Linked DNA regions of Homo sapiens: all the other regions are linked to region 3. Evidence: fine-mapped expression QTL. A gene starts in region 3. Each other region holds a variant in brackets. All regions are shown on one strand. Distances are from middle to middle.

The links. PIP is the estimated chance that this variant, and not a neighbour inherited with it, causes the effect. A credible set is the group of variants that fine-mapping cannot tell apart.
Region 1: its variant is the best candidate, but not a certain one, in a credible set for the expression of SLC1A3-AS1 in whole blood (INTERVAL, PIP 0.84).
Region 2: its variant is the best candidate, but not a certain one, in a credible set for the expression of SLC1A3-AS1 in whole blood (INTERVAL, PIP 0.56).

The regions. Positions count from the first base shown.
Region 1 is chr5:37,051,716-37,055,963 of GRCh38, reverse strand. It overlaps NIPBL (NIPBL cohesin loading factor), which reads right to left. Exons shown (of 47, transcript NM_133433.4): 41 at 4,078-4,185; 42 at 3,398-3,598. Among named protein-coding and RNA genes, the nearest start is that of NIPBL, 180 kb to the right of the region's middle. The variant G/A (reference allele first, on the strand shown) is at 2,029.
Region 2 is chr5:36,922,198-36,926,445 of GRCh38, reverse strand. The region is part of intron 1 of NIPBL (NIPBL cohesin loading factor); the gene reads right to left. Among named protein-coding and RNA genes, the nearest start is that of NIPBL, 48 kb to the right of the region's middle. The variant TTCAG/G (reference allele first, on the strand shown) is at 2,141.
Region 3 is chr5:36,723,153-36,727,400 of GRCh38, reverse strand. It overlaps SLC1A3-AS1 (SLC1A3 antisense RNA 1), which reads left to right and starts at 2,213. Exons shown (of 2, transcript XR_007058736.1): 1 at 2,213-2,287. RefSeq lists enhancers at 3,216-3,485, 3,526-3,575, 3,586-3,635.

The DNA of each region.
Region 1 (4,248 bases), 330 kb before region 3:
CACTGCCACCTTGAACTCCTGGGCTCAAGCAATCCCTTTGCCTTGGTCTCTTCAGTAGCTAGGTAGCTAGGAGTATAGGTGCATACCACCAGGCCTGTCCAGTTTTTATTTTTTAATTTTTGTAGAGATAGGGTCTCACTATGTTGCCCAGGCTGGTATGGAACTCCTGGGCTCAAGCTATCATCTGCCTTGGGTGCTGGGATTACAAGCATGAGTCATCTCACCTGGCCCTCCCTTTTCAATTACAATCTGCTTTTGTCCCTCACTGCTTGACTGTTTTTGTCCACGAAGTTCACCATTCTACTCTATTTTTCACTTCTTACTCTCCTTGACTTCTCAGTAGCATCTGACTATTACCCACACTTTCCTTCATGAAATCTTCTTCCTAAGTTTTCTCTTCCTACCTCTTTGACTACTCCCTTTTTATGTACTCCTCAAGCCAACTCCTTTGCAATCTGACTTTGGCAACAATCCTATTATTGTTTCAGGTGCTCAAGATAAAAATATTCCAGTTGTCCACTAACTATTCTTTTCACACAGTCTCATTTAATTCTTTCCTCAACTTTCTTTTCTTTTCTACTATCCATTCTTTTTTTTTTTTTTTTTTACTGTTGAGATGGAGTCTCGCTCTGTCGCTCAGCTGGAGTGCAGTGGTGCGATCTCAGCTCACTGCCAATCTCTGCTGCCCAGGTTCAAGTGATTCTCATGCCTCAGCCTCCCAAGTAGCTGGGACTACAGGTGCGCGCCATCATGCCTGGCTAATTTTTTTGTATTTTCAGGAGAGAGAGGATTTTGCCATGTTGGCCAGGCTGTTCTCGAACTCCTGACCTCAGGTGATCCATCTGCCTCGGCCTCCCCAAATGCTGGGGTTACAGGCATGAGGCACCACACCCAGCCTCTACTATCCATTCTTTTTCTCCCCTACTGTTATCATAGTAATTTATTATTACCTCCAGTGTGACCACAATGCTAAAAAAATTCATCTTCCTAAACTGCTCTTTGGCAATTGTCCTCATTATTTTATTCACACACTTACAATGTTTTTTTTTTTGCCATCTACAGGATCCTCTATATATTATTCCTCATTATGACCTTTCTGCCCCAGTCAAATAACAAACTATTCATTATTTCCCACACATTCTTATCTTTGTATTTTTAATTAATTTTTTGGCCCTGACTGGAACATCTTCCTTCCCTGGTTTATATAGCAGATCCCTCTCATTCTATCCCTCTGGGCCTTCAGGCATTTGTTCCTTCTCTGACATTCTTTGTTGGAGGTAGTCAGAAGAAAGCATTGCATTGTGAGAGCTGGGTTTCCAGTTTAGCATTTCAAATGCTGAGATGACAAAACATCTAGTCAATGACATAAAGCAGGCAGTGAAATCACATAGAAATGAAGTTCTTTTGGACAGAAACAAGGACTGGAACAATATTATCAACACAAACCATCAGGGCACTCAGGATATACTAACCGTAATCACTATTAATTTTGTATCCTATCCCCACAGCTGGAGGGAAAATCCTTTCAGGGCAAAAGCACTACATTATATCATCTGGCACTCCTCGTATAGTGTCCTATACACAATGCAAACTTAATACTGATAATGATATGATGATAATGTTGATGATAAATTTCATGTAGTACTTGAAGAGGTCTAGTAAGATATCTGCACTATGGTAATTATAATTTTGCTTTATTGCAAAAATCTGCTGTCAGGCTAACAAGTAATTAAAGTATTTCTTTTGTTCTTTTTTTTTTTTTTTTTTTGAGACGGAGTCTCGCTCTGTCGGCCAGGCTGGAATGCAGTGGCGTGATCTCAGCTCACTGCAACCTCTGCCTCCTGGGTTCAAGCAATTCTCCTGCCTCAGCCTCCTGAGTAGCTGGGATTACAGGCGCGTGCCACCACGCCCGGCTAATTTTTATATTTTTAGTAGAGATGGGGTTTCACCATGTTGGTCAGGCTGGTCTCGAACTCCTGACCTTGTGATCCACCTGCCTTGGCCTCCCAAAGCGCTGGGATTACAGGC[G/A]TGAGTCACCACTCCTGGCCTCTTTTGTTCTTTTAAAAGTTGCTATACACATAGGTTCATGCGTGCTCTGTGTGGGCAGAAACCATATCTGTTTTTACTATTTTATGCTCGTTAAACTTCTTAGCGCAATGGCTGGTACATAGCAGATGCAGAATAAATACTGTGTGAAATAAATAAATTAAAAGGTAAACTTTAAAGAATATTCAGTTTTCTTGGCCTATGGTCCTGGCCAATGCAACTAGTGCAACAGCCAGAAGTGTCAAAATTGTAATTATGGTAATCTCCCCAATTGCTGTTTTGCTTTCCATAGTTTCAGTTACCCTTGGTCAACCATAGTCCAAAAATAGGTGAGTAAACTACAACAGGGTATTTTGAGAGAGAGAGAAAAGCAAGATCCCATTCACATAACTTTTATTACAGTATATTGTTTTAATTGTTCTATTTTATTATTATGTTAATCTCTTACTGTGACTAATTTATAAATTAAAACTTTAACATAGGTTTGTATGTATTGGAAAAACCAGTACAGTCATGTGCCACATAACATGTTTCAGTCAATTACAAACTATATATATGATGATGGTCCCATAAGATTATCCTATCATATTTTTACTGTACCTTTTCTATGTTTAGATATGTTTAGGTACATGAATACTTACCATTGTGTTATAGTTATCTACAGTATTCAGTACAGTAACATGCTGTACAGGTTTGTAGCCCAGGAACAATATAGCCTAGGTAGGCTACAACATCTAGGTTTGTGTAAGTAAGATGTTCACCCCACAAAGAAATCGCCTAACTATGCATTTCTCCAAATGTATCCCTGTCATTAAGTGATGCATGACTGTATATATAATAATTAGTACTATCCATGGTTTCATGCATCCACTGGGGGTCATGAAATGTATCTTTAATGATAAGGGAGGACTACTATACACAAAAGTGGACTACTATACAGAAAAGTGACTTCCCTTCATTAAGGGAAATCAAGTTGAACAACTAGGGATCTCAATAGCCAAAAACCTAGAACAGTTATTCTCTAACAATATTTGAGGTAATCGGTTCCCAAAGCGATTAGTTTAGTGATGTTGCTTATTTAAAGATACGCTTACAGAAACTGTTATCAAAGTTTATAGGATATTCAGTATGGAGGCAAAATTATACATTATTCCTCATTACACTTATTCTCATACAAAATTTCCCCTTCACTTCTGACTGTGTACTTTGTAAATAACTTAGAAGATTAAGAAAACACTTAATGAAGTTACTATCATATACTAATAAAATGGTAATATTTAAAAAATGACTACTTTATCCATAAAATTTCTAGAGCACTTATTTTCTTAAAATAATAAGTTTTTGTGCTTACTGCTGTGTCATCAAAGAGGTTGAGTAAAGAAATAAGAAAGGCTCGTCTGTGTTGGCGGTTTCCACGGATCATGGAGTAAAGGTGTGAACACAAAGCGCTAGAGGACTCGTCTTGTCTGAAACCCCTTACAGGATCTTTTAGGCATGTGTTGATTGCCTGTTGTACCTGGTAAGACATCTTCATACCAGCCACTGCTTTCATCTGAAATCAATAAAAGTCTCATTTTTGTCAGGGAAATTAAAAGACACAAATTAAAAATATACTTAGAGCATTACATTCTGAGGCTAGCTTCATTGTTTTTTTTTAATTAAAATAATACGAATCACAGAATGAAGTGCTAGAAGGAACATTAGAGATTATCTCTTACAATTCCCTCATTTCAAAGAAGAAAAAAAAAATGAGGCCCAGGAGAGTCACTGCAGCCAAGTTCACATAGTAAGATATAAAATCCAGGTTTCCTGATTTTTAGTCTGGTGTGCTTGGTACTGTCACCTCTAGCCCAACCTTAACTTTAGACTAGAATAAACACCTTGGAAGACTAACTTAGTTGCATGTTTAGAAGATAGGTACTAAGTAAGACATTTTATTCCAATTATGAATGTGGGCAGAGCATTTATCAAAGAAATGCTTTACTCAAGAAAAATGTTTAAATTTAGGTTATAAAATGTTAAAATACATACATGAATGAATCCAGCATATTTTTTGTCTATTTCCACAAGTTGCTGATCAGCCTTGTTCCGCATAGCAGGTTCTGGGTCTGTGCCCATAGCAATTAAATATGGCACACACTGGAAATAAAAAAAAAAATTACGAGATATCATGGTAGTAAAAATTCTCTATTTAGACATATG
Region 2 (4,248 bases), 200 kb before region 3:
TTTGGCTGTCTCTACCAAGGCGGCACTTATATGGGTAAAGCCATCTGGAACTATTCTGGCCAGCCCATCTACCAGCTGAATACCTCCAAGTAACCTCCATCACCACCACATGAACAAAGCCAAGCCCTGCCTAAATTCCTGACCCACAAAATCGTGAGACATAGGAAAATGGCTGTTATTTTAAAACCACACTAAGTATGGGGAGTAGTTTGTTACACAGCAACAGATAACTGGAACAGTCAGTAACATTTTTTTGTTTTGTTTTTAAATCAAACTGGCAACAAAGAAGTTCTCAAAGGTACATTTACAGTGTTCAAAAGTGGTAAAGAATTCACAGAGTGAGCCAAAGGAATTAAGTCAGGATATATGTTTATTCTCATATTCAGGAAGGTATTGCCATGGTAATGGAGAAACTACTGACGTGACTGAGTCATCAATGAATTAGACTTGAGAATGGGTACGAAAATGAGAAGAAAATATTCATAAATGATACCTAGCTAAATGAGCATAGCAGGAGGTTAAAACAAATCCATGACTTAGAAGTTTGGGAGACAGGGTATAGAATATTATGTTCTTGGTCTAGTTGGACAGAAATAAGTAAGAATGGAAAGCAGGAAATGTGAGTAGAATATAGGCAAATGAACAGACAATGGGAACTGTAAGTTACGTAGGATGGATATATGTTCTCTTAGCTCAGCCTCAAGAAGAAACAGCCTTCTAACAATATGCAATAGTGGCAAAAACAGGTTTTTAATTATAATTCTGCCACGTACTAGTTGAAAGACTTTAAGTTATTTACTTAGTCTCTTTGAGGGTTTCCTCAAATATAAAGTGAGGATAATAGTGCCTACCTCAGAGTTATTTTAAAAATTAATGAACTGGCTGGGCGCGGTGGCTCATGCCTTTAATACCAGAACTTTGGGAGGCCGAGGTGGATGGATCACCTGAGGTCGGGAGTTCGAGACCAACCTGGCAAACATGGTGAAACCCCGTCTCTACTAAAATACAAAATTAGCCGGTGTGGTGGTACATGCCTGTAATCCCAGCTACTCAGGAGGCAAAAGCAGGAGAATCACTTGAACCCAGGAGGCGGAGGTTGCAGTGCGCCGAGATCACGCCATTGCACACCAGCCTGGGCAACAAGAGTGAAAATCCATCTCAAAAAAAAAAAAAGTAATGAATTAATGTATGTAAAATAAGTGTAAAAGACAATAAATATTAAATTTGGAGATATGATATACTAGAAAAGAGTGTTTTAAAGTATTACTATCAATGCTATTAATAGATAGCATCACTTATTTGAGTACCTTCTATATGCCAAGCATTCTGCTAGATAACATTAATCTTCAGCAGATTCCTGTCAGACAGATATTGACCTCCCTACTTCATACTTATGAAATACCTGCATAAGTGGACAAAGTAACTGCTTAGTAGCATCGTAAAATATTTTCCTTTAAAAATACAATTATTGTTTCTTAACCTGATGACAGAATAAAAGATATATAAAATTTTACTGACAAAGATACTGGTATAATGGATGTAAGTAGTCAAAGAAAAAGGCCTTTAATAGAGGCCCCCAGGAATTATTATAGAAAATAAAAGCAAAATGGAAACGTCTGGGGTGGGGATAGGACAAGGAAATCTTAAAAGGGAATGTGAGATGAGAGTCTGAGGAAAAATCTATTTCTTGTATTAGCTAGACTGGAGATTTTCTGTCACTGTTGATAATAACAGCAGTTAGTGTCAGCTATGTACATTACTAGCTGCTTTACATTCATATCATCATTTAATTTTCATGGCAATCATCCAAAGCAGTTATCATTCATTTCATTAAAAATTTAGTGAGTACCTACAAGGTACCAGACATTGTGGATACACCTATACACAAGACAATACAGTGTTCCTGACCAAACCAGCTGGCAAACTATTATAGAAATGGAAGCCTTTTCAAAGAGGTTACAGTAATTTGCCTAAGTTCACACAGCTAATAAAGACCACAATCAGAATATGAATTCAAATCTTACTCCAGGCCTATGTTCTTAACCACTACACTTAATGACACAATAAAAAAATAAAAAATTCTGTAATGCTGACAAGCTACAAAACTATTTAAACTGATATAAAATTTTCTCAAGAAACA[TTCAG/G]TAACACACTAAACATTTTATTAATCATCCATAATTAATAATTTATTAAACAGTTATATTTAAATTTATTTCAATAATATTCCATGCTTACTGCAGTTGTAACATTTAAAGATCAAAAATTTGGATATTAGTTCAAGAGGAAAATAGCTGTTATCCAAAGTTAAGAGCTATATTCATTGAGTTCTATGTTATCTGATTTAGTTTGATTAATCACTTAAGCAATCATGTTAACAAATAAGAAAATCCTAAAGATAATAATAACAGATCTTAGTGGAAAGCAACAATGTGAGTGAACAAATTATAACAATGTCATCTATAGGACAATTAGTAGAATACAGATAACTTGGAACTTGCAAATATAATCCTTAACCACTTTAAAACAGGAATTCATTCACTCAAAAGTGCATCTTGCTCTATCCATTTATAAGACTAGATATTGCCAGGACTCAATTTGCAATTTTTATATCATATTATATATGAACTTTCTACAAATAGTAGTGAACATTTTCACAGCCTCAGGGTGTTGATTGGGCCTTAACACTTATTATTATCCCCTTAGAGTCTCATTTATATCAATCAGTTGGTATCTAATACAGACATTACACAGAAAGCCAAAACAGGTCAACCAAGACTACTTCTGTGACTGCAGAAAAAGATTCTTCTGGATATAAAATTTTTAAAGTAAGAGTATTTATCAGAATAACTAAATTGTAAAGTAAATAACCAAAGACCACATAATGTTTCAGGCCACAGAAAGAAGAATGTATATAAAAGCAGGAAACTGGTCACTTTCCATAAAGGACCTTAATAAGTGTTTTTAATAATAACTAACAACAATATTCAAAGATTACTCTAGTTATCAGATCAAGAGATATCAAGATAATGTCCTCAACTTATCCATGAAAGGAAAAAATATATATATATCTCAGAGAATAACATCATTGGCCCTGAGAAGTCAGCATTTTTTTGTTGTTGTTTGTTTTTGTTTTTTGTTTTGAGATGGAGTCTCGCTCTGTCATCTACGCTGGAGTGCAGTGGTGTGATCTCGGCTCACTGCAACCTCCACCTCCTGGGTTCAAGCGATTCTCCTGCCTCAGCCTCCCAAGTAGCTGGGACTACAGGTGCACGCCACCACACCCAGCTAATTTTTGTATTTTGTATTTTTAGTACAAAATTACAAAAATTTTGTAATTTTGTATGTTGGCCAGGATGGTTTTGATCTCTTGACCTCGTGATCCGCCCGCCTCGGCCTCCCAAAGTTCTGGGATTACAGGTGTGAGCCACCAGCCCTGGCCTAGAAGCCAGCTTTAATTGGTTTAGTTACAACAAATCTTTTCTTTCAAATGTATTTTTCTTTAACTTTGTTTACAGAGATAATACTGGAAAGGACCTTAAAGGTGGTAGAAAAGAAATCTGTAGTTCAAATCAGTTACCCTTTAACATTCCCTTTATCAAAGGTAAGGTAAAGAAAGGTAAACTAATTTTCCAAGGGTTTGCTTTTTGGCATTTATCTTCTCAACAAAATTGCGATGGTACATAAAATCATCAAGTTTAGGCATAACAACCCTAACAATTTAAATGTTTTATAAGTAATATAAGTACATGAACCTCAGAGTTCATCACTGCACAACTTCATAAAATGAGTAAGATAGTCAAATCCAGGACTTTCTAAAACAAAACCTGTGCTTTCTGCAGTAATACCAAATACCACCATTAGACAGCCAGAGTGATTCCAGAGAAATAAGTATCCAGTATGCTGGACATTTCCTACATTTCATACTAAGTTAAAAGTATAATACTCGACAATGGCCAAAAGAAAACTGACCCCTCAGTTTTGTTTTCTTCATGGCTCTTAAGGACTCAAAATACTTTTTCTATGAATATACTACTCAAGTGGGTAACCTCAGATGAGATTTCACCTATACTATGAATAGCATGATTTTTCTTATTGAAAAATCAAACTAATAGGTTTAGGGTAAGAGTATAAAAATTATGATAAAAATCCAATTTTTAAGAAATGGGTCAAAATTCAAGGTCATTATACAAAAAATAAGGAGGTGGAAAATGGGCAGTGATAGAAACTGGTAACATATTTTTAAGAAAA
Region 3 (4,248 bases):
GGAGGGCACTTTCTCAGGGAAGGAATGAGGGTCTCAGGCTCTGTGGGGAAGAAAGGCATGCAGAGGTGGCAGCTGCAGATGGCCTGACGGGTGGGAAATTTTGCCTCTTCTGGTTTCTGGTCACCCCAGCTTCTTGAAAGACTGAATTGAGGAGTGTGGGTGTTGGAGTGGGGTGAATGGGATAGGAATAGCTCTATGAGCAGCTGAAGCTACTCCGTTGGTACCATCGGGACCATACTGTTCTTTTCATTTGGAATCCTGAAAATGGTGCATATATAAAGACCTTGAGGGCTTAGCAGGTGTTGGGGAAACCACCACATTACTGATCCTTCAAGAGACCAAGACATAAAAATAGTGCCTCTTATTTCTGGCCTTTTGGCTACTGTTACTTCTGTGTCATTGTCTCTTATTACCCTCACTTCTAGCCACACCAGTCTTATCACTGTTCCTTGGATGGGCCTCAGGGCCTTTGCACTGGCTGTTCTCTCTGCTTGGACCACTCTTCCTCAAGATAGCCACATGCCTCACTCCCTCACCTCCTGCACTCTGCTCAAAAGTCAACTTCGTAGGGAGTCCTGACTTGACCACCCTAATTTAAATTGCACTTCTGATTTCACTTACTTTGCTTTTTCTCTCCATAGTGATCACCTCTTAACATATTACAAAATTTTCTTAATTTTTTAATGTTTATTGCCTATCTCCTGTTTCACGCTCCTTCTTGCATCCCTGAATGTAAACTCTGAGAATAGTGAGGTATTTTTTGTCCTTTTTGTTCAATAACAAACACTCAGTGCCTAGAATAATGCCTTACAGGAGTGCTTTATAAGCATTTGTTGAATGAATGAATGAACTAATGAATGAAGTGTAATACAAGGGGCAAAGGATTTGGCATCCTTTGGTCATGGAGTGCTGCTCAGATATGTACTATAGAAACCATTCTGAAGCATTTCAAAAGACATCCAGTTTCTCCTCTGTATACTGCAAAATCTTGGGCTTAGGTTCTGGCATTTAGTCTATGACAAATGATTGCTGGCAAAAGTTGAATGAAGCAGTTAAGAGTATGGGTTTGCAGTAAGATCCAGGTTCAAATTTACACCTTTCCATGTACTACCTGTGTGACTTTGGTGAAATTATCTTCTCCAGGCCTTAGGGTGAAATGTATGTGAGAATGCATGAAGCCTGCCACGTGGTTAATATTAAGAGTGATAACTCATATTATCATTGATGGAGGTGAATGAAAGAAATGGAGTAACACGCTTTTAAAACACAGTTTCCCCTCCATTATCATTTCAACCACTTTAGATGAAAATATTGAGGGATACATCCACAATTTCTAGTTAATTAAAAAATATCAGGAGGTCTTAGTAGATTCTAGATTTTTCCTTCAATGAAATGAGTTGTTAAATAAAAGGCCTCCATAAGTACAGGGTCTTGTCGTTGGGCTCTATCTTATGAGCGGTGGATCTGCCTCCCAGGAAGGTAGGCAGACACCAGTGAGGCATCTGGTGCTTGGGATGCAGCGAGTGGAGCCAAGCAGAGAATGATCAGATCCGTTTGCCTGGAATTTCTGCATTTGCTGCCCCAAACATCTGGAGCCAGGCTACCCAGTGCAGATGGAAAATAGCAAAATGCAAATTCCCTGGGTTCAGCTGAGGGAAGCCAAGGCAGACAGAGTCTGAGAAGGCGGATGAAAGGTGAGCCAAAACAAAAGCCCTGGCGGGTGGTGGGGCAGCGTTTTATCTAGAGCCTACGGCCCCCGGTAAGGACAGGAGATGAGAGAAGGGACCTTAGAGCTACTTGGGCCACCTTCATGTTCGTACTCATCCCCCTCCTTAACAGCCTGAAAGGGAGCCTGCTGGGCTTACGGCAGCCTCCCTGTCCTCTTCCTGATGCCATGCCTGCTCCATTGCTTTGCTTCTTCTGGATCCTGTTTCGCCCTCTCCCTCAAGAAGGAGATCCTGAAATAGATCCTGAGTCAATGACTCAGGTGCAAGTGCTTTATTAAAGAAAGGCTCCCAGAAGAAATCTACTTGCACCCGAATCATTGACTCAGGATCTCCTTCTGGGAGAATCCAAGCCAAGACAAGACAGACAACCCAACCAACTGAGCTGCTCACAGCTTCAACTGCTACAACCCTGGAAAGGATTCTGATTGGCTAGCTAAGGGTCACATGCCCAAATGGGCCTTTGATTGGCAGCTGTTGCTTCCTTCCTACTCCCTCCCACACACCCAGGAGCTCCAGCCTGTTATGGGATGGGCATCCTACCAGGAACCAAGGATGCTAAGGTAAGCAGTCCTTGCCCTCATAGGTTTACTTATACTTAAGGGGAGAGAACCGTTAGTCAAATCACCCCACATACAGATCTTTACACACTATGAAGGACAAGCACAGGGTGCAGTCAGTGGGAGGGGCCCAGAACGGGAAGTGCCATGCTGGCTGCTGCTGTGTGGAATGGGCTGTAAAGAGAGCAAGAGTGAAAGCCACAGCAGGGGAGCTGGTCAGAGATGGCAGTGGCTTTATTAGAGTGGTGGCCCTGGAGTTGGAGACAGGTGGGAAAAACTCAAGAGCCCTCTAAGGAACCGACCCATGGCAGTCCATCGCCACCAAGTCCCTCTTACCACTCTAGGTTTAAAGAAACCCAAAAAACAAAACTACGTTGCAACTGCACTGCTACACCAGGAAACCTAAGGGGGAACAAAAGAAAACTTAGTAGTGCCCTCTAGGCTGAAGATTTGACCTATTATTTACTAACCTTTCCCTCCCTCTTCCTTATTTTCAACAAATCTCCTGCCATCCATTTTGAATTCTTCTCTAAATAGAGAAAGCTTTCTTTCTCAGCTTCATTTAAATGTCCACCATGGTATTTACCCATGTTTTCTTGATTTTTATTTCTTTTTGGGGCGGGTATCTAAAAGATAATCTGATCCCTGTTCCTGATTCTGTAGGTGACAGAGAGAAGTGGTTTTCTCATTTTTTTGTGTGTGAAATTATTCGCATATGAGGAAAAGATAGCTCAAAAATAGAAGCTCTTTCATTATCTCTCCACAATGTAGTGTGGCCCCAAGTGACTATTTTGTGGAGACACGGTAATTTGGGGTGGCTAAATCATTACCCCGAGGTGTGTCAGATGCTGCCAAGACCTCCTTCATTCATGTGGCCAAGACTGTGGGCTTCCTGGCTGGGGAGGCAGAGGCCCTGCTCTTCTGCTGCTAACCTTGGGGTCAGCGAGCCCTGATCCACACTTCCTCTGGGCAACATCAATGGGGCTGCTGAACATATTGAGCCAGACTTGTTTCCAAGAGATAGAAGGAACTAGAGCATTGGGGAAAGTCCCAAGTAACTCTAGCCCTCAGCCACCTGCTGTGGCTGAAGATGAAGTCTCTGCAGCTTCAAGAATCCAACTGGCTGGTGCACATTGTTCTCATTGGCTAGATCATTCCTCCATGTAGCACTTCACTAAACTCATTAACAAATATTTACAAATGACATTGCTTTTTGGGGTCATGTATATTTCAGTCTTCAGAATCCATCAGGCACTCAAATCCCTTGGCAGTTCTAGTTCTCTCCCCTAGACATGCCTCTGCCCCCTACTACTCAGTTCCTTTTATTTCTACCATTCGTTTTTATTTTCTATTTCATTTCTTTACTTTTTAGAGACAAGGTCTCTGTCACCCAGGTTGGAGTGCAGTGGCATGATCATAGCTCACTGCAGCCTCAAACCCTTGGACTCAAGTGATCCTCCTGCCTCGGCCTCCTGAGTAGCTGAGACTACAGGTGTGTTCCACCACATCTGGCTAACTTTTGTATTTTTTGTCAAGATGGGGGTCTTGCTATGTTGCCCAGGCTGATTTCAAACTCCTGACCTCAAGCTGTCCTCCAGCCATGGCCTCCCAAAGTGCTGCCTACCATTATAGGCTGCCATGCCTGGCCCTTATTTTTTTTAAAAAATGATCTTCTCCCTTCTATGTAATTCCTATTCTACCTGTATTATTCTTCTTTCCCTGTATTATGCTCGTCCCTTGCTCTTCTTCTCCTCTCCCTTTCATTTTAACCACTCTTCCATCTCCTGCTACTGCATGTGAATCAGATTTGCCCTCCAAATACCGTGTGTATCACCATCAGTTCAGTGGCAGAGGCTGTTCTTGCGCTGGCTTGGAAGATGACAGTTCCCAAAGTATTCCCCATAGAGGCTGATCGGTCTGACCCAGCTAATGCTACCAGTTAAAATAATCCTGGCTCAGGGCCC